Linked DNA regions of Homo sapiens. The protein of the gene in region 1 purifies or fractionates together with the protein of each later gene. This does not show direct contact. Each region holds a gene or a part of one and is shown in the gene's direction. Other genes may lie near its edges. The genes, in order: LRRTM4, TRIM44, TGFBR3, RRP1, ZC3H18, NRP1 and BOD1.

Evidence for each region.
Region 2: the proteins of LRRTM4 (region 1) and TRIM44 purify together in Homo sapiens (co-immunoprecipitation; one large-scale study listed by IntAct). This does not show direct contact.
Region 3: the proteins of LRRTM4 (region 1) and TGFBR3 purify together in Homo sapiens (affinity purification with mass spectrometry; one large-scale study listed by BioGRID and IntAct). This does not show direct contact.
Region 4: the proteins of LRRTM4 (region 1) and RRP1 purify together in Homo sapiens (co-immunoprecipitation; one large-scale study listed by IntAct). This does not show direct contact.
Region 5: the proteins of LRRTM4 (region 1) and ZC3H18 purify together in Homo sapiens (co-immunoprecipitation; one large-scale study listed by IntAct). This does not show direct contact.
Region 6: the proteins of LRRTM4 (region 1) and NRP1 purify together in Homo sapiens (co-immunoprecipitation; 2 studies listed by BioGRID and IntAct, with this or other methods). This does not show direct contact.
Region 7: the proteins of LRRTM4 (region 1) and BOD1 purify together in Homo sapiens (co-immunoprecipitation; one large-scale study listed by IntAct). This does not show direct contact.

The regions. Positions count from the first base shown.
Region 1 is NC_000002.12:76,749,377-76,752,876, reverse strand, and holds part of LRRTM4 (leucine-rich repeat transmembrane neuronal protein 4 isoform a precursor), read left to right. Parts: intron 1-3,500. UniProt on the Homo sapiens protein: May play a role in the development and maintenance of the vertebrate nervous system. Exhibits strong synaptogenic activity, restricted to excitatory presynaptic differentiation.
Region 2 is NC_000011.10:35,683,275-35,686,774, forward strand, and holds part of TRIM44 (tripartite motif-containing protein 44), read left to right. Parts: intron 1-1,984; coding exon 1,985-2,062; intron 2,063-3,500. UniProt on the Homo sapiens protein: May play a role in the process of differentiation and maturation of neuronal cells. May regulate the activity of TRIM17. Is a negative regulator of PAX6 expression.
Region 3 is NC_000001.11:91,711,652-91,715,151, reverse strand, and holds part of TGFBR3 (transforming growth factor beta receptor type 3 isoform a precursor), read left to right. Parts: intron 1-2,609; coding exon 2,610-2,909; intron 2,910-3,500. UniProt on the Homo sapiens protein: Cell surface receptor that regulates diverse cellular processes including cell proliferation, differentiation, migration, and apoptosis.
Region 4 is NC_000021.9:43,802,685-43,805,793, forward strand, and holds the end of RRP1 (ribosomal RNA processing protein 1 homolog A), read left to right. Parts: intron 1-636; coding exon of another isoform or gene 637-761; exon of another isoform or gene 762-821; intron 822-827; coding exon 828-1,090; 3' UTR 1,091-2,609; downstream 2,610-3,109. UniProt on the Homo sapiens protein: Plays a critical role in the generation of 28S rRNA.
Region 5 is NC_000016.10:88,625,903-88,629,402, forward strand, and holds part of ZC3H18 (zinc finger CCCH domain-containing protein 18), read left to right. Parts: intron 1-1,719; coding exon 1,720-1,880; intron 1,881-2,017; coding exon 2,018-2,217; intron 2,218-2,855; coding exon 2,856-2,952; intron 2,953-3,500.
Region 6 is NC_000010.11:33,188,168-33,191,667, reverse strand, and holds part of NRP1 (neuropilin-1 isoform a precursor), read left to right. Parts: intron 1-3,500. UniProt on the Homo sapiens protein: Cell-surface receptor involved in the development of the cardiovascular system, in angiogenesis, in the formation of certain neuronal circuits and in organogenesis outside the nervous system. Mediates the chemorepulsant activity of semaphorins.
Region 7 is NC_000005.10:173,606,651-173,610,150, reverse strand, and holds the end of BOD1 (biorientation of chromosomes in cell division protein 1), read left to right. Parts: intron 1-480; exon of another isoform or gene 481-573; intron 574-716; coding exon 717-912; 3' UTR 913-913; intron 914-1,858; coding exon of another isoform or gene 1,859-1,886; 3' UTR 1,887-3,006; downstream 3,007-3,500. UniProt on the Homo sapiens protein: Required for proper chromosome biorientation through the detection or correction of syntelic attachments in mitotic spindles.

The DNA.
Region 1 (3,500 bases):
GCTGATGGAACACAGAACCATTTGGAGAGGCTCTGAGAACACATTTACAAAAATACCAAATCTGAATTAAGCAAAACTTAAGAATACTTTGTTTTGACTACTGGAAAGGAAACAATGACACACACAGGGACCCAGGTGGTTAATGTACTGTACACTATTACTGTAAAGTACAAGACCTCAGCCTCTGAGCTCCTCAGAAACCACGAATTCAGTTGATTACATAGTGCCCTATAGAATACACTTGAAGAGTAAAAGAGCAAATATTTCAGATACTCTTTCAAAGCTTGCCAATGCACTTGGCTTTTGAATTCTTGCTATTGGTCTGCTGTGCAGGAGGGAACTTTACAATGGTTTTTACTCTCCAAGAGGTTTTAAGCCTGCCTCAATTACAATAGAGAAAATGACATGAGCCCTCTTTTAAGTGCTGTAAAAAAATAAACTGCAATTGTAATAGCAAAACAAATTTTCTCAGTTCAGAAATGGTGTAATATGTAAACGTAAAGCTTTGCAGTTAATGCAGGTCCCTTGACTTTTAAGTCAACTTAATTCAAAGACAAATACCATGATTTCTTAGCTATGAAATTGTTATCTCCCACTATAGTTTAAATTAAAAGGCTTTAAGTAAACATTGCAAATTCAACAATGTTCACTTATGAGCTACTTATTTTCATCTGTAGATTCACCTGGTTGTGCAAAAAGATCCCTAAGGCCCTGATTTCATCTCACATTCACTGTTCTATACATGTTTGTGAATTCAAGTATCTCTTCTTTGTGAAGACCATTGACAGAGCTACAAGACGGTGAACAAAACCACAACCCATGTTTAATGTTCATGTTGATGTCTTTTAGTAATTTGGCTAATTTGTAGAAAATTAGTCATGTATTTAAGTTAAAGTGTAGAATAAATGTTCTATAATCAGTGAATGTTGTTTCCATTTGGAAATAATTTGCTGAATTTTTATGTGATTTTCAAATTATGTTACTTCACCAGTTAACAAGAGAGTACGAATGGGCTGTATTACTCTTAGGAAATCCCTTTTGAAAGCATTCTTCCCACTGAAATGTCAGCACAAAGTGTCTTCTTACATTTCGATGCTTTCTTGGAGTATAAGTGACCCATGGCACCAATCCCACATATCTCCAGGAATCTGACACCCTGAAAAATCCTATGAGGTTTCCTAAAATAGGTCCCGCTGGCAAACATTTTACGTCTGAACCTGTACTGATTGAAAGAGGTCTCATTGAATAAGATATAATAAAAACAAAACAAAACAATAGACTTGGGGTGAGGGAGATTAGAGCTAACTTTTATTTAGTATCTAGTAATTCGGCCATGTCACTTTACAGTCTGTTCCTAGCTCTCTCTGTCAGCACAGAAATTAAGGTCCAATTTTTAAAATATCACTATCAATCACAACTCTGACCTAGTATGTATTTTTTGCAATTCTCCTTTTTACAGAATAGAATGGCATATTCAAGATTTTATCAATAGCTTGTTTGATGAGAAATACTCTTGTTACTATTTTGTAAAAGACTTCCTGAAAATAGTTTTTACCTTCCTTTAGAGGTAAAACAACAACAAATCAGAAACAAAGCATTACATATTGATTTAATTTTCCAACTCATTGTGAAAAACAGTGAATTATACAAGTTAATAGAAGTGAATAGTAAAAACAGAATGGGAATTTATCTAGGCTATTGCCAGTCACTGTAAAATAAATTGTAATCTGAATATGTGCTTTGATCAAGTATTTTTTCAAAAACATGGTCTACCATGATTCCCAATTTTCAAACTTCAAAATGTGTCCCAGTACACACATTGATATGCACATACATAAATTTAAAACAAAACTCTTATGAACAACTTATCTTTATACTCTGATACTTTCTATTCTAGCTAATTTAATTTTTTAAATGCTTATTTGGATTCACAAAATTGATTTCATAACCTACTAATGAGTTGCATTTGCGCATAGAAAACATTGCTTTAATCTAAGACTTAAAAACTGTGAGGAGGTGACTTTCCCCTTAATAAGCAGAGAGGTGTTAAAAACATAATTCTCATAAGAATAGAGAGGGAATTTGTGTCAACGTTGTATTAATCACATTAATAAAAATACCAGCAAGAAAATACTAGAGCTAGTTTTAAGAGCATTTGAGGAACTTGCATAGTAAACAGACGAATGACATCTAAAAATAAGTTTGCTGAATTATATTTAAGACTGGTTAACTCCCTGCAGTATAGGGAGCCATAAGACCTCTGGTGGTTAACTCTAGTAAATTATAAAATCAAAACAACTTAATTTCTGCACTTTTAGATACAGAAGGATTCAAACATAGTCCAGTCGGGAGACTGACAAAATATCAGTTATTTTAAGAAAGAAATTTTAGAAAGAATGCTAACTGGATATAGAGTTATTAACCAAGTTTATGCAAAGGCTAAGATATTGCTGTGGTATCACAGAAACAGCAATGTTAGGAAGTAGCTACCACCCCTACAACTTACAGGGCTGAGGGAACGAAAGGAAGATCATTAAGACTTAAAAGCTTGGAGGAGAAGCTTTGTGGTGATGAACCTCAAATCTCTCTGGTGCTAGTGCTGGTGTCTCTGAGGAGGGCTTGATGAGATCAAATGTTGGATATACTGCAAATGTTGGAAATACTACAAAGAGGCAGCACCTGCTGCTGTGGGAATAAATTGATATAGCCAGAATGAAGACATGCCATTAGGATAAATTCCTGGAGGAGGAAGAAACAAAACAGGAAACCAACAATGGGAGCAATTCCCTCTCCCTGCCAAGTCTTGCCATCTCCCTCCATTGGCAAAGCCTAACAGGAAACCACAAATAAAACAGATATGTGGTTTGCAAAGTCCAAACCTCAGCATCCTAAAAGCAACCACAGAAGGGAACTTAGAGCTGAGAGTCAATAGTTTAAAACCTGCCACAACATCTAACCTTACAGGGCAATGGAGCCTTTGCACTTTTCTCATCTGTGGATTGTTCATCAAGAGTGTCAAATTGTAACTCGCAAGTATGAGAAATATTCTAGCATGAGAACAACAAGTAAGCAAGTATCATTTGCTTTTTCCTAAATTTGGAATATATTTATCTTTATCAGAAATTTATGGCTTAATTAAAAGCTCCACCAAAATTCAAAATTATTATAACTGATATTTTCTGCTTTTTATATTAAATGAATTTCTGCAGACCATTATTCAGGTCTGTTACGCTAACATTAGACACATATTTGGCTTGTTACCTTGAAAACCAATAATAACATTACATATTATGAACATAAAGATGTGCCTTCTCCCATGATTCCAGAGTTCTTTGGTCCAGTATTGATATGTGATAGAGTGTTAGAATTAATCTATAGGAAATTGTGATTATTTTTTAAAACTAAATAAAAGTTACACATGATGATAGTAAAGATTTCAATTGTGTATAGGTATCAAATAAAAAGTTACATATATGTTTATATATATAAATAAAAGTGTA
Region 2 (3,500 bases), on another chromosome or scaffold:
GAACTTATTAAAATTTAGAACCTTTGCTAACATGGAAATGTGATTTAAGCTGTGTTTGGAGAACACATCTAAAGTAGATATTGGTTGTAGTCATGTTGTGTCTGATTTTTACTGTGTAGACTTGAGAGGCAAGAGAGGTCAGAGGGGGGAAAATTGACCCTTTAGTATATTTTAATTTATATAGTGGAATCTTATTAGGTATTTCCTATTTTGGAGGAATTGAAATTAGTTCTGTAAATTTGGAAGATATGTTATCACAGATCCAGAGGCCAATTTTGAGTAAGAGATATTTGCAGTATCTGTTTATTCTTGTACTTCTTTGTTGTCCCTACCCCATAGAAATGACAGTGAGTTTACCTCTTTTTGCTTCCTTTCCCTCATTGGTGAAATGAATGTTCCTACCTATCTGATAGAGTTGTTGAGATAAGAAAATAAATGAATTCCTGTGATTTTAGATTGTCCTATATATAATATAATGTATTATTATTATGGCATTCATGTCTTAAGGTTATATGTTCATTCATTGATTTGTTCAGACTTTTTACAACATCTAGATGCTGGGCATAAGAGATACAGGGATACAAAAAAATACAGTTCTTACCCTTAAGGAACTGAAAATATCACGAGGGAGACAGATAGTAATAAAACTGTTTCATACTTCCTTTTTTATTTACCATGTGCCAGGCTCTGTTCTGAGTACCTTGACATACATTAACTAATTTAATCTTACTGCAGTCCTATGAAATAGATAGTTATTGGCTCTATTTTACAGATAAAGAAATTGAGACAGAGAGAGGGTAAGTAACTTGCCTAAGGTCACACAGCTAGTGTGTGACTAATGGCACTAGGGCTCTAGTCTGTGCTCTAAATCTGTACTGACCAATATAGTAGTCACTAGTCACATGTGGCTTTGGAGCACTTGTAATGTGGCTGGTTTAAATTGATTGGGCTGTAATTGTGAAATACTAGATTTCAAAGACCTAGCATAAAAAAAAATCTCATGTTGAAATTGCATGTTGTAATGATATTTTGAATATACTGAGTTAAGTAAAATACATCAAAATCAATTTTACTTTTTAATTGTGGCAGTTATAAAATTATATACATACGCTTGCATTTGGGACTCACATTAGTCTTTTATTGTACTGTGCTATTCTAAATCATTATACTGTAATAATAGTAATAGCATATGAAATTTTTGAGCACTCACTGTGTGCCACATACTGTGCTAATATCTTTTAAAACACTTTCAGTTAGGCCCCAAAATAGCCCAGTTTATTATCACTATTTTATAGAAGGGGGAGAAGGTTTTGAGACATTTAGTAATTTGCCTGAAATTAATCAACTAGTTAATGGCAAATCCAAAATTGGAACTGTATATGTCTGACTCAAAAACCTGTGAGTTTTATGGGTTTTTTTGGTGTTGAACTCCTGGCCTCAAGCAATGCTCCTGCCTCAGCCTCCTGAGTAGCTGAAATTACAGGTGCAAGCTACCACACCCAGTTAAAAAACCTGTGTTCTTAATCAGCACACTACAGTTCCATTCATAATTAAATTTCAGACTATTTTCTTTGTTTTAATTTTTATAAGTATATTTAATATTGCATACTTCTATATCTGATGCATAAAGGTTCAAAATAAAAATTACCAGTCTGTAAAATAGACATCTTGTATGGAACTGTCTTTTGTAGAGCTTCAGTGAACACCAGCACAGTTGAGCCTGAGATGAAGCAGTGAGTCAGCCTATACAAATTGTATTTAATTTTCATTCCATATAGTTGTGCCAGTCACTGGGCAATTTATGTCCTGACACTCTTTGTCCATAGAGAAGGGAAAGAGGGGCAATGCACCTCTCCTTTGTTGTTTAGCTCTCTTGGCTGTTAAGAAAAAATTGCTTTCTATTTCATTGTCTTCCAAAATGCTGTTTGTGTTTGAGAGAGCAACAAAATGCTGTCTAGTGACCCCTCACTTTTCTTTCTTCTAGAGCAAAGACTCAGGTGGACTGAAGGCCGCTATGATCGAATTGGTGGAAAGGTTGAAGTTCAAGAGCTCAGACCCTAAAGTAAGTATTGTTTGGAATTGATTGGGTGTTGGTACCCCAAGCATTTCATTCTCCTTGAGCTAAAATTGTGAGGTGTTGATGATCATCTCTCTGAATATTGCATTAAGATTTAATTAAGCCTGCCCATCAGAAACAGTGTCCTGATATGCCTAGAGATAAGTCATCTATTTTTCTCCTTCTCTATTTTATGACTTACAACACATAATCATTCATTGTTTTCCCTGAACTGCAGACAGGTGCATTTTTAATCCTCCTTTACCAGGGGTCTTTGAATCTTTGGTCCTCTGTGTCCATTAGATGCAGCCAAAGGCGTCTGAGAGAAATACAGATCATCTTTTTTTTTTTGAGACAGAGTCTCGCTCTGTTGCCCAGGCTGGAGTGCAGTGGCGCAATCTTGGCTCACTACAGCCTCCGCCTGCCGGGTCCAAGCCATTCTCCTGCCTCAGCCTCCTGAGTAGCTGGGATTACAGGCCTGCGCCACCATGCCCTGCTAATTTTTGTATTTTTAGTAGAGACGGGGTTTCACCATGTTGGTCAGGCTGGTCTCGAACTCCTGACCTCGTGATCCGCCCTCCTCGTCCTCCCAAAGTGCTGGGACTACAGGTGTGAGCCACCGCACCAGCTGAGAAATACAGATCATCTTAATGCCAGGGACTGGCATGGGATCCAGACTCATCTAGTTGGTGTTCAGCACTAGCGTCTTATCTCTCCACTGCTTCCAGGAGCCAGCTGCCACTCAGAATACTTTTTTCCTCATGACCTGAAGTCTGGTTTGGAAACTGGTTTAAGTGTCCCGGCTTTTTTTTTTTATTTCAATATGTTAGGGTCTAGAGGATTGATATTCTGGGAGACACCATAACGGGGTGGAGGTAAACGGAACTGAACAGACTTCCTTCTCCTTCCTACCCAGACACTTACTGTGGCACTACCTGGTATTGGGGCCAGCTGGCTTTGCCTTAGAATCAAAGTTTCTCACAATTAAATAGGGAAAGGCGCATGATTTTATTTTACTGTAGGTTCTTTTTGTTTTTGTTTTTGTTTTTTTTTTTTTTAAGAGGAATGGGACTAGCATTTCTTGAGTATCTACTGAGAGTCAGGCACTTTGCTAGGACTCTTACATGATTGTACTAAAATATACATACAAAATTTTAACCATTTTTGAGTGTACAGTTCAATGGCATTAAGTACATTCACTTTGGTTTTTTGTTTGTTTGTTTGTTTTTGTTTTTTGTTTTTTTGAGACGGAATCTCGCTCTGATGCCCAGGTTGGAGTGCAGTGGCATGATCTCGGCTCAGTGCAACCTCTCCCTCCCAGGTTCAAGTGATTCTCCTGCCTCAGCCGCCTGAGTGGCTGAGACTACAGGCACATGCCACCACACCCAGCTAACTTTTTGTGTTTTTACTAGCGACAGAGTTTCACCATGTTGGCCAGGCTGGT
Region 3 (3,500 bases), on another chromosome or scaffold:
ATATCATCTGTTGGTCTTATGGGAAGGTCCTCATCTAATGAGCTGGTTTTGGTGCTCAGCTGCAAGCTCAGCTTCATAGTGGGAGGGGTGAGAAGCTTAAAGGGTCAAAGTGGGGTACTTCCATATGTTAAAAGTGACTTTGGTGCACGTGTTTCTGTTTTGGAAAGACACATAACTCTCACATTCGCACTGACTCTGGGACAGAGCCCGCTGGCGCTAGATGTTGTTTTCCTTGATCATATGGATTCTGCCCCTCCCCCATTCTGAGAGTTCTCTTTCTTTGAGCACACCTTCTTTCTCCATTGGGGAAAATATACTGCCTTCTACATGCTTTTCCTAAGCCAAGATGGCTGTTTTTCTCTTGCTTTTCTGGCTGTACAGTTCACATGGGCAGTTGGTCAACAGCACCCTATTGCGCTGTGGATTTCAGGGGTGCTGCATAATTGCAGATTGTTCTTTTCCAAATCTATGCCTGGCTTTGCTGATTTATGCTAATCAGTGGTCAATCTTCCTCCTGTACCTTACCCTGGATATTTTGGGTTTTTTCCCCCATCCTTCAAATGCTGGCTTACTTGAAGTGTGTTATTGGTAGTTTTTTTTTTCCATTCTTGTTTTCCCATTTATACCTTTTCATATATCACCTATATTTCTCATAGTTTATCCTCTATTCCCTCTACACCATACAGTCCCTTTCATAATCCAAGTTAACAGTGTTGCCACCTGTTCATTGGTCATCTCCAGGTGACTGTTGGTCACATAATGGCAGTTTTCTTTTGGTTCATTTGTCTTGGGGAATTTACAAACCCAGTTGTTAATAACCCAAAATTTTAAATCTAGAATACTACTATTACTAATAGGTAGCATTTATTGACACTCTGGGAACTGTGTTGTTTGCATGTAACTTTTACTTTGCTAGTTTTCACAATTATGATATCTTGTGGGTATTCGTGTTCTCATTCTGTAGGTGAGTAAACTGAGTCTCGGTGCCCAGCACGTGAGCAGGAGAGCATGTAATTTTTATGAGCTCGTCTCACTACAAAGCCCGTAGTCCTTCTCCTACTCACTTCTGGTCTAAAAGTAAAATCCTTTTTAGTAAAAGATTTGCTGATAATTTATATATATAAACTATATATACATAAAATATATTAAAAAATAATATATATTTTTTCCCTCTGCTACAAAGGTATCCCTTTTTGGGATACCTTAGACATTCTGCCGCTACATACTTTCTTTTGAGATTAGAGAAGAGATTTGCAGTCCCTCTGTTACACATTTTGGCATGTGGTTTCTGAGTTCATGTTAAACGGCAGTTTTTAGTAATAGCACATATGTAATTTGCCACCTTTCCAAGATAGAATATCTTGTTTTTCAGAAGTATTGCAAAAATACTGAAGTGTTAGTATTTACAGAATGTCACCACAGTGACATTATCAGAATCCTCTTCATTAGCATTTTCACTGTTGAGTGTCCTGCAGTTAACCACCACGTAGGAATCTTTCACAACAGTGCTGCGGATTCAAAGCCCCATGTGATGTCAGGGGTTTCCCCTGGGTATCTCAGCGTGGAAAGTCTGTTTCTATCTCCATGTCTTTTGAAATGATTCTGCGGCTGTTGGTCTATGGGTAAGGACTAGCTGTTTCTACAAGTGTTTAAGTTTATTTTGATCCTAAATTTAGTCAAAGAATGAGGCATAGCAGGGAGGGGCAGTTCATGCAGTGATCCACGTGTCACCAAATGGAGAATCTCCTCTGGTCTGGGGATTTTAGCTAAGTTCAGGATAGTTGAGGTTTGAATTCTGTTTACACTTGGCTAAACATTACTTCCTGTTTCTAAGGAAAAGAACCTTAACAAAATTTGGACGTAGCCCATACAAGTGTTTTCAAAGGGGGAAGTATAAATGAGTCGGAAACGTTTCCAGATTAGATTTCCCCTAAACTACCCCTGGGCTTATGGAGCGAAGGGGGAGTACTTGGCAAGGCTGATTTGGATCTGTGAGCAGCTGGGACACTTTACCAGGCCCATGATGGCCTCCAGGTTGCACCGTCACTGACACCCAGCGCCGGAGCCAGCTCTGCCTTCTCGCCGATGAAGCAGGACTCTCATCAGGCTTACTCTGACTTTTTGCAATTTAGAAGCTCAGTCTTCCTGCCTAGGTTAAATAGATTTTGCCGCTGAACTCTATTTTTTGGTCAGTCTTTAAAAAGAGCTTAGCTTATAAGTGTTGTACTATTAAAACATTAGGGACTTTGCCTACTGGTGTTTTATTTACTTCGGAAAATCCACTTTAAATGCAAAATATGTTTTTATTTTTAGCTCTCAGAGGACTCATTGGGAGGTGGAAGAGACTTACTCATCTTGTATTTGAATCTAATGGACTAATATTTGAAAGAAATAATTCACTGTCATCATCTATATCAAATTGAAGTGGAAAATATCTTTTTCTTTCAATGTGTGTGTGTTACTTTTGTAATTAGAAAGAAGGCTATAACTATGTTATGAAGATAAAGCAGCGTGTCATCTGAAGGGCTGTCTTGGCATATGGTCCTTGTGCCTAAAGTGAAAGTGAGATGCTAACTCATTTCCTAATTCATCTTTCTGTTCTTTCATAGGTATCTGTTACTAAGGCTGAACAAGAACTGGGATTTGCCATCCAAACGTGCTTTATCTCTCCATATTCGAACCCTGATAGGATGTCTCATTACACCATTATTGAGAATATTTGTCCTAAAGATGAATCTGTGAAATTCTACAGTCCCAAGAGAGTGCACTTTCCTATCCCGCAAGCTGACATGGATAAGAAGCGATTCAGCTTTGTCTTCAAGCCTGTCTTCAACACCTCACTGCTCTTTCTACAGTGTGAGCTGACGCTGTGTACGAAGATGGAGAAGCACCCCCAGAAGTTGCCTAAGGTTTGTGGGCCTTCATCCATTCGGATGGTTATTTTGGCATTTTTAGGTGAGGCAGAAAAGTTTAATCCCAAGGTCTTGCAGGTTGAGGTTTTTTGTTTTGGAACTGCCCAACTGAAATATTAAAGTCACTATTAGCAGGGAACTGTGAGTTTTATGGAGTCTTAGATAATAAATCCTGACAGCATGAGTTTCTTTTTTCCATGCGTGCTACTTAGTAGTACCTTACGAGTGATAAATCAAGACGCTTTTCCATGGAGGGAGATTTCTGGCTTTATCTTTGCTTTTCAGATAGTTTGCAGGCCAAAAACACAGCAAGCCGAAAGGACAAGTTCATTGTGAGAATTAATTTTTCCAGGTCCTGCTGGGACTGGCATTGTCATTGTTTTTTAACCTTTTCTGTGTGAAATATAAGGTTGACTTGTCTCAGGGAGACTTCTAGGGGAAACTAACAAATATTTTAGCTTTTCTCAGTTTCATATCAGTTCATCATATTTGCCTCCTGTCACTCTCCAGATTGAATGTTCTATTGCCATAACAAAAAGCAGAACCATTTGACCTTGGTGGAATGCATTTGATAGGGGAGATCTGCAA
Region 4 (3,109 bases), on another chromosome or scaffold:
TTAGATCCAAGCCCCGTCCGCTCCTCTCCCGCACCCTCCAGAGATTCCTGAGTCTCTCCACGTCTTCCTTCCCCTTCTTCCCTCCACTTCTTCCCTCCACTTCTGTCCTTGATTTCTGGGGCTGCCTTCCGTGTTGGGCCTCTGGCCACACGAGTGTGGTTGGCATGTGATGCCCTCACCAGGGGCAACCCTGGGTCCGCGGCAGACCACTCAGGGCCTGGAGCTGCCTACCTGCAGTGGAGGGGGTTGAGCACAGTGCCGGGCAGGGCAGGGGGCCCATGGCAAGAATGGGGTGCAGAGGAGGCACATGGTGGCTTTGCCCCACACTGGGAAGCCTTCCCTGTTACTCTCTCCATGCTAAACTGGCCCCAGGGCCTAGGGATTCACCCCTTCCCTTGCCCAGAGCTCCGTGCCATTGAAGCCGTCCATCTCATTTCCCATGAGGCAGTGGCCTCCTCTTTGTAGCCGGCCCTTGGCTGTGTGAACCCTGTCGGCCCTGGCGTTCAGGACCTGGCACTGCCTGGCGTCCTGTTCTTCCACCTCCCCTTCTGCCTTGAGCCCAGTCCTGCCTACTCCTCTGTGCCTTTGCTCCTGGGTCTCATGACCCTGTCCTCACGCTGGTCCTTCTGAGGTCAGCCCTTGCTGAGGTCCTGAGCCGTGTGGATGGAGCTTGGCGCCCACACTGGACACGGGATGCGTCTGGCTGGCTGTTGTGGCCGTGTTGTCCTCCCAGGTCTGTGGTGCTGGCATCCTCAGCCTGAGTTGGAGTAAGTGGAAAGAGCCCGTGTTGGCATTCTCTGGCTCATGGGGTCTTGCTGTTTTGTCAGGGAAAGGTGAGAAGGAGCCCCCGAGCCCGGGCATGGAGAGGAAGAGGAGCAGGAGGAGGGGTGTAGGGGCCGACCCCGAGGCGCGGGCAGAGGCTGGTGAGCAGCCAGGCACAGCTGAGCGGGCCCTGCTCCGAGATCAGCCCAGGGGCCGTGGCCAGAGAGGGGCTCGCCAGAGAAGGAGGACACCTCGGCCCCTGACCAGTGCCCGAGCAAAGGCGGCCAATGTCCAGGAGCCGGAGAAGAAGAAGAAACGCAGGGAGTGATGTGGCCGGGCCAAGGACAGGCAGGGAGGGAGGCCAGGCCTCGCTTGCACCGCGGGACGAGGCTGACCGGGCTGTTCTGTAGACTCAGGACCGTGGCTCCAGAACTCCTGTGCCAGGCGGGAGGGAAGGGCGGCACTGGAGAGATGGGCCCATCATTAGGGGCCAGCATCCCAGGAACTGGACCTTTCCCCAGAGCCTCCGCCTGTGGCTGTGATGACCTTGGGCCAGAAGGTCAAACTCCGAAGACTGAAACTCTGCCTGCAGCAGGACTGGCCGCCCCTGCTGTGGGGGGTTCAGAAAATAAAATGCCGCGCAGCCCTTGCCAGGGGAAGTGTCGCTTCAGGTGTGTCCTACGGACGTGTGGGAGGTGGCAGGCGCCAGCCTCCGAGCAGTGTGGTGGTTTATATTCATGTTTGTGGAAAAATCTTGCAAGACATTTCTCCTTTCACAGAACTGCCCAGGTGTTAACAGGGCTGTCTGGACGGGGCTCTTTTGCTTCCCCCTCAATCTGGGGTCTAGAGTTGTGCAAGGAATTCAGCTCCAGTAAGGCCTGGATTGCCCGGGGTGAGCGTGTGTGTGGTGGGAAGACCTGGCTTCCGCGAGAGCCTTGTTCCTGGAGGCAGGAGCGCCCCGCCATCCTGGGTACCCGCGGGTCCGCAGGCTGCGCACCTCTTTCCCTCAGCCAGGTCACCCTCAGCGTCCTCCCTGCCCCTCTCCCCTTCACACCTGCTGGAGCCTGTGAGGGAGGTGGCGGGTCCCCACTGTGGCGACGGAGAGCTGACAGTAGCCCAGGGCTTTCCACCTGCATGGAACAAGGGCCTGTCTGCCGCCAGCGCTGTGGCCACAGCCTGCATAGGTGACAAGGGGCCGCTGCGTTGGGTTTTGCCCGCATCTTCTGTTCCATGGGTGCCCAGCCAGCCAGGCCGTGTGGGATCCAGCGAGAGGCCAGGGCTTGGAGTGGGCCTGGGACCAGGAAGGACCTCTAGGCTGTGGCTGGCCTTGTGCAGACCCTGGACTGCATCCGGTTCCCCAAAGCCCTGCTGCATTCGAGTGTCCCCCAACCCCGGGCAGGTGGCACCTGGTGACACCTCCTTCAGTCCCACTCAGCTGGGCGGCCGGGGCAGGCTTAGGGCACAGTTAGGGGCCAAGGAGAGGGAAGGCCAGGGCCCCTGTTCTAGGGGTTAGGGTTCTTTCCCCAAAGGAACTTAAAAAGACAAGCGTGGCCAGGCACAGTGGCTCACACCTGTAATCCCAGCACTTTGGGAGGCCGAGGTGGCCAGATCACCTGAGGTCAGGAGTTTGAGACCAGACTGACCAACATGGAGAAACCCCATCTCTACTAAAATACAAAATTAGCCAGGCGTGGTGGCACATGCCTGTAATCCCAGCTACTCGGGAGGCTGAGGCAGGAGAATTGCTTGAACCTGGGAGGCAGAGGTTGTGGTGAGCTAAGATCACGCCATTGCACTCCAGCCTGGGCAACGAGAGGGAAACTCTGTTTCAAAAAAAAAAAAAAAAAGACAAGCGTGTCTAACGTAAACTGCCGGTGGCGAGCGTCAGGTCTGGGCAGTGTCCCCTGGGCCTGGTCAGTGTTCCCCTGGGCCTGGCCTCTTTACCCCCAGCAGGGCCTGTTGGGACGAGCCCCTGCAGTTGGAGGCCTTTGGAAGGGAACGGGGTGCATTATAACGCTTTCTTGTTTTTGAAGTTTCTTTGGTCAAAAGCTAAGGAAACAACCATGCTAACAGAAGTTTCTGGAAAAAAGCAAATTAGAGATGCCGAATTGCAGTTGTGAAACTGGAAGCCACAGTGACTTTGCATCTTCTTTCACATGTGTGTTCACAGGGAGGGGTTTTTCATGGCTGCGCCGGCACTGTCACGCTCTGGCTGTTTCCAGGCCCTGCTGGGTGCACGTTTCCCCATATTCAGAATTGTTTTAAATAACCGCATTGTGCTTATGACATGAATGACTGAATTCCTCTCCTATTGGTAGCCTCTTTTACTTTTTTATTTTTTTATTTT
Region 5 (3,500 bases), on another chromosome or scaffold:
CGCGATCTCGCTACCTCCGCCTCCCGGATTCAACCTCAGCCCCCTGAGTAGCTGAGACTACAGGCGCACACTGCCACGCCCAGCTAATTTTCTGTATTTTAGTAGAGATGGGGTTTCACCATGTTGCCCAGGTTGGTCTCAAACTCCTGAGCTCAGGCATTCCACCCACCTTGGCCTCCCAAAGTGCTGGGATTACATGCGTGAGCCGCCGCACGCAGCCTAATTTTGTATTTTTAGTAGAGACTGGGTTTTACCACGTTTCTGATCTTGAACTCCTGACCTCAGGTGATCCATCCGCCTCGGCTTCCCAAAGTGCTGGGATTACAGGTGTGAGCCACTGCACCCAGCCCAGAAATTTTTTTTAATTAGCTGGGTATAGTGGTGTGTGCCTATGATCCCAGCTACTTGGGAGGTCAAGGTTGAATGAGCTGTGATCACGACATTGCATTCCAGCCTGGACAACAGAGATCCTGTCTCAAAACAAAAAAAAAGGATTTTTGCTATTTAGTTGTTTTAAAAGAAAGTATTAAATCAGTCCTTAGATTCCTTGCATAGAACTCTTTCATTTCCAGGCAGCAGGTCGTTTATATATTTGTCACAGTTCTTTGTTTCTTTTGTTTGTTTTGTTTCTGGAGAGACATGGTCTTGCTGTGTTGCCCAGGCTGGTCTCAAACTCCTGGGCTCAAGTGATCCTCCCACCGTGGTCTCCCAAACTCGTGGGATTATAGGCATGAGCCACCGCGCCTGGCCTAAATGTTTCTTAATAAGTCTGAAATGTTTTAAAGACCTGACTTTTGAAAAAAAAAAATGGTTCTCTTACATTCCCCCGTTCCTTGCTCCGGTACCCAATGTACCTGGAAGACGTGGTTGGTGTTTTCTCGAGCAGCATATGGGCAGGGCAGACTCAGGTGCCAGTCCTGTGTGCTTTGTGTCCGTGTTGAGTGCACGCCAGTGAAGCTACAGACCTGCTGTTTCCAGTCTGTCTGCCGTGTGTTCCTCAGGCATTCCCTGAGACTGCGGAATTGCTCCTTGTGTTTTTAATTTCCCTGTGGGCTGAGGCTATCTCCCTTTTGTCTAAGCCAGGGACTCTGCTTAAATTCCATCCTTGCCGCTGTTGAGTCAGCTCAGTCCTGTTTCCCTTCCCAAAAAGCAACCTGACATTCGTTTTGTTTTTTGTTTGTTTTGAGACGGAGTTTCACTCTTGTCGCCCAGGCTGGAGTGCGATGGCATGGTCTCGGCTCACTGCAACCTCCACCTCCCGGGTTCAAGCGATTTTTTTGCCTCAGCCTCCCCAGTAGCTGGGATTACAGGCGCCTGCGACCACGCCCGGCTAATTTTTGTATTTTTAGTAGAGATGGGGTTTTACCATGTTGGCCAAGCTGGTCCCGAACTCCTGACATCAGTTCAGCTGGGTCTCAGACCCCATTGCTCGTGACGAGATCTGCCCATCTCAGTCTCCCAGAGTGCTGGGATTACAGGCGTGAGCAGCCGTGCCTGGCTGCAACCTGACATTGATTAGTGAAATGGGGCCCTGGCCTAGCCATGGGGACGTCCCTTACTTTGTAACCCTGAAACTGCCCAGTGTCCCCCCAAAATCACACATTCCGTGGGTACATGATCCATAAATGGACACTGCGTAAAAGTGGACCATGGAGCACCCCCTGCTGGCCCCTCCCTCCAGTCTGGCTGGGGTGTGGTGAGATGTGCTTGTGTGTCCAGGTCCCTGAGCGTGAGCAGCGTCTCCTCAGTGTCCAGTGCTACGTCGAGCAGCAGCTCTGCACACAGCGTGGACTCGGAGGACATGTACGCAGACCTGGCTAGCCCCGTGTCCTCAGCCAGCTCTCGGTCCCCGGCCCCAGCCCAGACCAGGAAGGAGAAAGGTACTCAGGAGCCCTGGTACCTTTGGGGAGCAGCTCCCGGGGGAGGAGGGCGGCATCAGCACAGACTTTGCCTGGCTGTTGGTGTGGCCATGGGAAAATCACCAGTACCCCCATGACTGCGGATTTATCATTGGTAGGAAAATCTAAGAAAGAAGACGGTGTTAAAGAGGAAAAGCGGAAAAGGGATTCGTCCACACAACCACCCAAATCTGCAAAACCTCCAGCAGGGGGGAAGTCCTCCCAGCAGCCCTCGACACCCCAGCAGGCACCCCCCGGGCAGCCCCAGCAGGGCACATTTGTGGCCCACAAGGAGATCAAGTTGACACTGTTGAATAAGGTGAGGGCAAGGGCCCTCCTGGTGGCTGCCCCAGCGTCTAGGCCTGGGTCCATCTGCTTCCTGAGACAGCTTCCTCCTGGGGGACGGAGCCTGAGTGAGGGCGAGTGGGGCCTTGCAGGTGTCAGCACAGCCTGGGTAACAAAGCGAGACTCCATCTTTCCGGCCTGGGCTGGGAAGTGTGAGCATCTGGGGAGGTTTGGGTGCTGCTGGCCTCTCTCTGAACAGAGAGGGCGTTCTCTTCGTGCCTGTGGCCGCCATTCCCTGCCATGCAGTCTCAACACAATACAGGAAGCCTCCGTCCCTGTCCTCTGTCCTCAGCAGGACACATCCCTGTCCTCTGCTGGAAGGGCAAGAGGCCTGGCTTCATGGGTCCCAGGTCCTCCTAGAGTGGCCCCCGTGGGGAGCAGGAAGGCCTGCAGGGTGCTTCCCCTGGAACGTGAAGGGCCCCAAGTGCACAGTGGGGGTGCCCTTGGTCCGGGTCCTGGAGGCCTCACTCAGGGCTACGGGGTCTCATGGGTGTGTGGTGGGACCTTTGGGAGCAGAGCAGGTTGCTGGCAAGGAACCCATGTCCTCTGGGGCGAGGACACGGCTTCTGGCTCCTGGCCCTGCTGTCCTCACTGGCCTCTCTCTTGTCCCAGGCGGCTGATAAAGGAAGCAGGAAGCGCTATGAACCATCAGACAAGGACAGGCAGAGCCCTCCTCCAGCCAAGCGGCCCAACACATCCCCAGACCGAGGTGAGCCTCCCAGCCCCTAGGGGGCAGGGCAGAGGGACGGGAGCCTGGGGATGCGGAGCAGCTGGGTCTGAGACCCCATTGCTCTTAACAAGTAGGAGGAGGGTCCAGAGAACATCTGACTTGCAGATGATGCCTGTCGGTATTTAGGGTGTTGAAAACTAAAACGAAGAAAAGGTTTTAAATATTTGTTTAAAAATAACAGGACCGGGCGTGGTGGCTCACGCCTATAATCCCAGCACTTTGGGAGGCTGAGGCCGGCAGATCACTTGAGGTCAGGAGTTCCAGACCGGCCTGGCCAACCTGGTAAAACCCTGTCTCTACTAAAAATACAAAAATTAGGCCGGGCGCGGTAGCTCATGCCTGTAATCCCAGCACTTTGGGAGGCCAAGGTGGGCAGATCATCTGAGGTCAGGAGTTTGAGACCAGCCTGGCTAACATGGTGAAACCCTGTTTCTACTAAAAATACAAAAAATTAGTTGGGCGTAGTGGCGTGCGTCTGTAATCCCAGCTACTTGGGAGGCTGAGGCAGGAGAATCGCTTGAACCTGG
Region 6 (3,500 bases), on another chromosome or scaffold:
TTTGGGCAATTTCAAACATATTCACAAATGGAAAAGAAATAGTAGAATGAATTCTCTATGTGCACGACCCTGCTTCAACAATTATCAGATCATAGGAAACTTAATTTATGTCTGTCATCCCTGACTCTGAATTATTTTCAAACAAGTCCAAGCATATATTATGTCCCCTCGTTTATTTTACAACTAAAGAAACAATTCACAATGCTTGCTCTCTCCCGACCCTTGAAGGGGAGGTGGGGAAAGACGGTGTGGAATTCTTATTCACTGGGGAAAGATTGAAAGTGTAGTGTATTTCCTTTGAGCAGGTAGAAACCTCACCATGCCCTAGATCACAACCCTCCCACCACCTCCTGCCTTACTTTCTTCCTAAGATTAATTGGTGGGGGAGGAATGGGTTGGGGGACAGAAAAAGCTGGCAGCTTCTCCAGTGAACTCTATTATCTGCCCCCTTCCTGCTACCCACCTAGTCATTTCACTGCCCAACTTGAAGTACAGTATAAAGGACCAGCAGACTGGACGTGGTGGCTCACACCTGTAATCCCAGCACTTTGGGAGGCCAGAACAGGAGAATCAGTTGAGTTAGAGAGTTAGAGACCAGCCTGGGCAACATAGCAAGATACTGACACTACAAAATAAATTTTTTTTTTAAAATCAGCCAGGCATAAGGGCGCACACTTGTAGTCCCAGCTACTCAGAGTCTGTTTTAGGATCCTTTGAGCCTAGGAGTTCAAGGCTGCAGTGACCTATGATCACACCATTGCACTCCAGCCTGGGTGACAGAATTAGAACCTGTCTCTAAAGAGAAAAAAATAAAAATTAAAAATAAAGAAATAACCAGCCATGTCTGGCCCAACACACATGCACACACACACACATACACACACACACATATACACACTCACAACAAACGCCCAATCCATGAACTTCTGCACCCACTCAGAAATACTTACAGAGCACTGCTTGCTCAAGTAGTGGCTTCCCAAAAGGTACCCCAGGGGGGCATTTGCTGATGCTAGGAAATCTCATTAAATTCTCCCCATCTTGGCTCTTTGGGTGAGTGAGTCAGTGGACTGAAGGCTGGGCCAAGGGTACTTCATGCCTTTCCCATTTTGTGGTTCACTTTTCTCCCAGTGAATATAACCATTAAATAGGTTGAATAGGCCTCCTTCCACCACAGCCACCTCCTTGCCTAATGAGAATGACAAGGAAATTGGATAAAATTGGACTCCTTCAAATCTGAGACACTTTCAATTGAATCTTAAGACAGGCAGTTTTAGAAAACTTAAAATACTTTGACTGTAAATGGCACTGTACATATAAATGGCATCAAATTAACTAAATGCAATTAGCCAAAATGAAGGCAGTAATGGTGGAAAAATTGATGCAAAGTGAAGCAAAATGGCTCAGTAGGATCTGACATTCAAAGGAGGTTAAAAGCTATGTTAGCCAGAGACAAAAGCTAAAAGGCTTGCAGAAGTAAAGTGCTAATTGAGAAAATGAAGACAGAGTTCCTGACCCAGAACTGTGATAAAACCCTTGAAAGGGAAAATATCAGTGCTTTATGTGTTAGAGTATCAGAGAAGGAGAGCTTGTCGTAGATTAACAGCTGAGAAGTGCGATTCCTTCAGAAGGGTTTGACTCTTTTGTTCTCTCAGCCACCCAGATTTACTTGGCAGTTGTGCCAGGTCAGCTCCGACTAGAAAGAGCCCCTGCAGTTCTAGAAACACAATCATTTGTGTAGAGAGATGGGTGAGCCCGACATCTGAAAGGCAGGAACTACTTGTTAACGGGAAAAAGATCCAGATGAAAAGAGCCCTTCACGAAGCTCCCGCGCATAGACTGACATTAGAGAGTAGATGGTGCTTTTTTTATAATATTATTTGGTGAAACTTTGCAAGCCAGACATTGGGTTGTTTAAAAAGAAAATGAACACTAGCTAGGTAAAATATCCTGCTGCTTATCGAAAGGCATCCCATTTGCTTGGTTTTCTGCATTTGACCTCAAAGAATGGAACTAGGTACCTCCTTTCAGAGGATTCCTGAAGTCTGGCATCTCTCCCTGGTTCAGTGAACAAGTGGTATTTGAGAAGCTCTGTTACAGGGCAGATGCTGACTTGGGCACTGGAAATACACGTGTAAAGGAAGAGGTCCCTACGCTTGAGGAACTCGCAGTCTGATCATGGTTGGGAAGCAACCACAGTGCAGTTCAGTGAGGGCTTCCAATGGCAGAGGCCAGTGACAATGGACCATGTAAAAGATGACGGAAGAGGGGTCAAGGAAAGCAGCCCTGTCTCAGACACCGGCTGAGCTAGGCTTATTTTACTGGCTCATGTTTGGTGTGCTTTGCACAGGTTTTTGTATGGGAAGCAGTTAGATAGAGGCAGAGTGTGCATGACTTTGGGAACTACCTCCTTGCCTAATGAGATTGACAAGGAAATTGATGAAATTGGATTCCTTCCATTTTCACTGAGTAGAGCAGAAGTTTGTGGATCGGGTGTTTATTGTGAGTGAGTGTGTGTGTGTGTGTGTTTGGCAGGACACTGCTGGTTCTTTATACTATACCTTAAGTTGGTGATGCAGTGACCAGGAGGAAAACAGGATGGGGGTGGATAAAAGGTCCATTGGAGGGGCTGCCAGCGCTCCCTCTTTGTGAAGAAGTGTGGATAGGCTGCAGGCAGTGAGCAGCCTCTGAAGAATTCTAAGCAGAGGAGCAACACGAGCAGTTTTAATTTATATATATATATATATATATATATATTTAAGACAGGGTCTCTGTTGCCTAGGTTGGAGTGCAGTGGTGTGATCTTGGCTCACTGCATCCTCCACCTCCCAGGTTCAAGCGATTCTCCTGTCTCAGCCTCCTAAGTAGCTGTAGTCCCAGCTACTTAGGACTACAGCTATGTAGGAGCTACTACAGATGCCCGCCACCACGCCCGGCTAATTTTTGTATTTTTGGTAGAGACATGGTTTTGTCATGTTGGCCAGGCTGGTCTCGGACTCCTGACCTCAGGTGATTCAGCCACCTCGGCTTCCCAAAGTGCTGGGATTACAGGCGTGGACCACCGCGCCCGGCCACACGAGCATATTTAAAGACCACAGTGTGAGAAGGCAGGGACCATAAGAACTTCCTCAGGCAGAGGATTCTTGAAATCTGGCATCTCTCCTACTGCACTGAACAGGCATCATTTGAGAAGCCCTGTTACATGGCAGGTGCTGTGTTGGGCACTGGAAATACAGGTATGAAGGAGGGGGTCTCTGTGCTTGAGGAACTTACTGTCTAGTTGTGGATGGGAAGTGATTATGGTGCAGTTGAGTGAGGATGTCCTATGGGAGAGCATCCCTCTACCTACGTCCACTTCTCTCCTTCTTTCTAACACCCATTCTCTGACTAGCCTCAATAAACTTTGAGCAATGAGCTCAATAAGTGGGATTAAGACATGGCAGCAGCATTGCCAATTTCAGTCTTTTTTCCGTAAGATTGAGGGGACAGAGGCACGATGG
Region 7 (3,500 bases), on another chromosome or scaffold:
TCCTCTCACCATCATTTCCAGTACCCTGTCCCAAGTGTTTGAATATAGACATTGATATGCCCTGATTTTTGCTCTACTTCAGAAAGGATCGGGGATGTAATTTAGCCCTCTAGGAGCTTGGAACTAATTTGTTTGTCTATTTCTTGTTTGCTTCCAAGTTGCTTATTATGTGTTACAGGTAGCAACTACAGCTGAAGGCCATGGTGAATTGCTGGTGATGTAAATACTCCCAGCCCTGACTGATCGGCCTTGTTTAAATTTTAAGGATTAGTAAACAGGTTGCTGCTGGAGCTACTTCTGCTTAGGCTATTAGGAGAATAAATGTTGAAGGAAATGGAGTCCAATTCGGGGCTTACTGGCTTTGACAGTACGAGGAAGCTTTTCAGTGCCACACGTGTCAAACTCTTTCTCACCATGCTGTCATTTGTTTGTTGTTTTGGAGCAACTCACTTAGTTTTGTTTTTGATTCTTTTGTACAAGGTTGGGTGATTGTGGGTGAGATTGTGCAGTAGGAATAACAGCTGCTGGTTGAGAATTACCCCTCAAAAGTGAAAATAGCGTGAGCTGTATATGGTAAGTGGATTGACCTCTAAACTCCCTAGAAGGGCTGTAGCTTTGAAGGTGGACATTTATTGGGCTCGCACGTGACACTTATTGGGGCTAAAGATGAATCCCGAAGGAACTAAATAACAGAATGATCTGTTTGTCTCCACAAGGTCAGGGATGTTGGAAGCTGGAGTAGACAGGATTATTTCTCAGGTGGTGGATCCAAAACTTAACCACATCTTCAGGCCACAAATAGAACGAGCAATTCATGAGTTCCTGGCGGCCCAGAAAAAAGCAGCTGTGCCAGCACCCCCTCCAGAGCCCGAAGGCCAGGACCCTCCAGCTCCATCTCAGGACACTTCCTAAGGTCCAGTATCCTATCTTCTGTCCAGGAGTATGCATCTCTGGCTTGTAGATATGTAAAATGGATAGGAATGGGGTAGGCCGTAATTGAGGATCATTCAGGAAGTATTTACTGCAGATGGACTTCACCTACTGTTATAAGTCACTTTTTACTGAGAACTAATTAGTAGCAGTTTCCTGTGTCAGTGACTGATTTTCTGTTCCACCAGCGCTAAACATGTAAGCTATGGATAGATGCTTCATTAGAAATCAGCTGGGATGATTGGTGTGCATAAAGGGGATTCAAATGAAAGTCTTATTTTGCTGAAATGTTTAAATGAGTCTCTCCTGGACATGAGTTAACTTAGGCTTGCAATTTTATTTAAAATCAAGCAGTGCCTTCTGAAGTGATATCCTAAATGGGATTCAGAGTCTGCTTTGAGTGCGACTCGATTTCCATGAATTTAGAAGGAGTTTGTTTACCACTATCAATTACCATGGGATTCTTCTGTTAGGAACACTCCCCCTTTTTAAATTAAATTTGGAATTAAATGTAATTTTAAACAGCTGTAGATGTACAAAAGAATGCTTTTTGCAGGTTTTGGGAGACATTAGTAGGAGCAGCGATGAAGTTAGCAGTGGACTTTTCGCCGTTGTTGGTGACTGCTGGGATATGTTTTATCCCTTCATTCTGATTTGGTGTTCTTTTTAAGATTCTCTGAGATGCCTGTTATAATCAGTAAGTGAGGTGAATTGACTAGGGCGTTTTGAGTGTCAGTGATGAGCAACGCAAGAGCATCAGGACTGTCTTTTTGTTCCTCTATTGAGAGAAGCCCTTGAGTCCAATATGGAGTGTAAAACATTCATTTTAAGTCTTTCTTTTTAATTGTAAATTCCTTTAGGAACATAAAAGTGAATATAGTCTGTTATCAATAAATAACATTTTGATATGATTATCTTTCCTTTTTAGAATACGCCAGACACCTTTTGAAAGCTAATTTTTGGTGAAGAAATGGATTCGGTTACATAAGAGTGCAACTTCAGACTGAAGATAGGCCAAGGTCGTCACTGATCTCAAGATTTCAACCTTGACCATGGGCAGTGACCAGATTGAAAGGGGAGCAAGTTCGGCAGTGGGAGAGTTGACCGTGTCACCCCCTGCATTGTGCTGCCATTTGGCCAGCCTGTCCAAGGGCATGACACCAAGTAGACACTACAGAGAGAGAAACACTACAGCAACCCAGGGTTGTCCTGAAACAGACTTTTATACTTGAACATGGAGACTGCACATGGACTTTAGGGTTTGTGCTGTGGGATAAACGGAAGCTACAGTGAGAACATAGCCAGTCCCAAAGACAATTTCAAAGAAAAATGACAGTAAAGATTAGCTGGGAGTAGTCTTTGACAGTGCTTATTTGATACTGTCTCTCAGAGTTTGCAAACCAGATTGTACAAGTCATTAGCGTCAGATAGCTTTAAAGTTGTGACCTTCTTGTACATGAATCTTCTAGCCAGTTTCCTTTCCTTTGTAACGAAACATGAAATCCTAGAATGTATGAGAAGTTCAGACATTAGGCATAAGGAAACTCGTTTGCAGGCTCTCTGTCCAGGGCTGCTTCCTGTCCTGGAGGGGCCAGTGAGTCTTAGGTATGTTTATTTTATTCTCACATTTGTGTTTTTTTAGAAAAGTGAATGGTCAATAAATGGCTTATCTTTCATAATAAAATTATTTGATACTTTTACTCCGAAGCTTCAGCTGAAGCTTAAACCTCAGGTCTGTGAAGGGCAACCTTTGTCTTCTGCCTCTGTGCACCACACATGATCTACTGGCAGTGAAGATTGGTACATATAACTTGGAACTATGAAACTAGTAGGTGTAGCTAGTAGTGGGCTGTTTCTCTCCTCCCTGAGCCATTACTGACACTGGTCTTTAGTTGAGGTAGTCCGTGGTATGTGTCAGTGTTTGTCATCCTTGTGTGTGCAGAAGTAGCACCTGGGGATTTAAGGGAAAATGCATATTTCTGATTAAGAAGTTCTGGGGTGGGACCTAAGAGTGAGTGTTTCTGACAAGCTGCCAGGTGATGCTGATGCTGCCAGGCCTCTGAACATACTCTGTATAATAAGCCTTGGATAATATATCCAAGATTATGTCTAACTAAGTCTGTGGTTCTTGGTTGAGTCTACTACTGCATATTGCTGCTAATCTGATCAAAATTTTAACCAATTCAGTTGGTTCCCTGTTAAGACAAAGGCTCCACTTCCACCTTTACCATGAATACCCCTGTATGAGCACTGCAGTGCCATATTCAGCAAGATGCTTGGTAGCATGTGCCCTAATTTTAAAGCAAACTGGCCACACGTTTAAGGCAGGTGCCAGTTATATCTGACGTGTGGTCTGTTCCCACCTGGTAGGTGCAGTTCCATTTCAAGCTGCCTTACAGTTGCAGGAGTCAACAAAGTTCTTAACCCCAGAAAATGGACCCTCCACTCCTCTCTACTACTAGGCAGACAGGGAGTGGCCAGAATTAACCAGTCCTGTGCTTGCAGAAAAGCTGCTCAGACTAACTGGAGTGTCTCCTCTTCAGGACCACATAGCTTTAATGGGAAGTTCC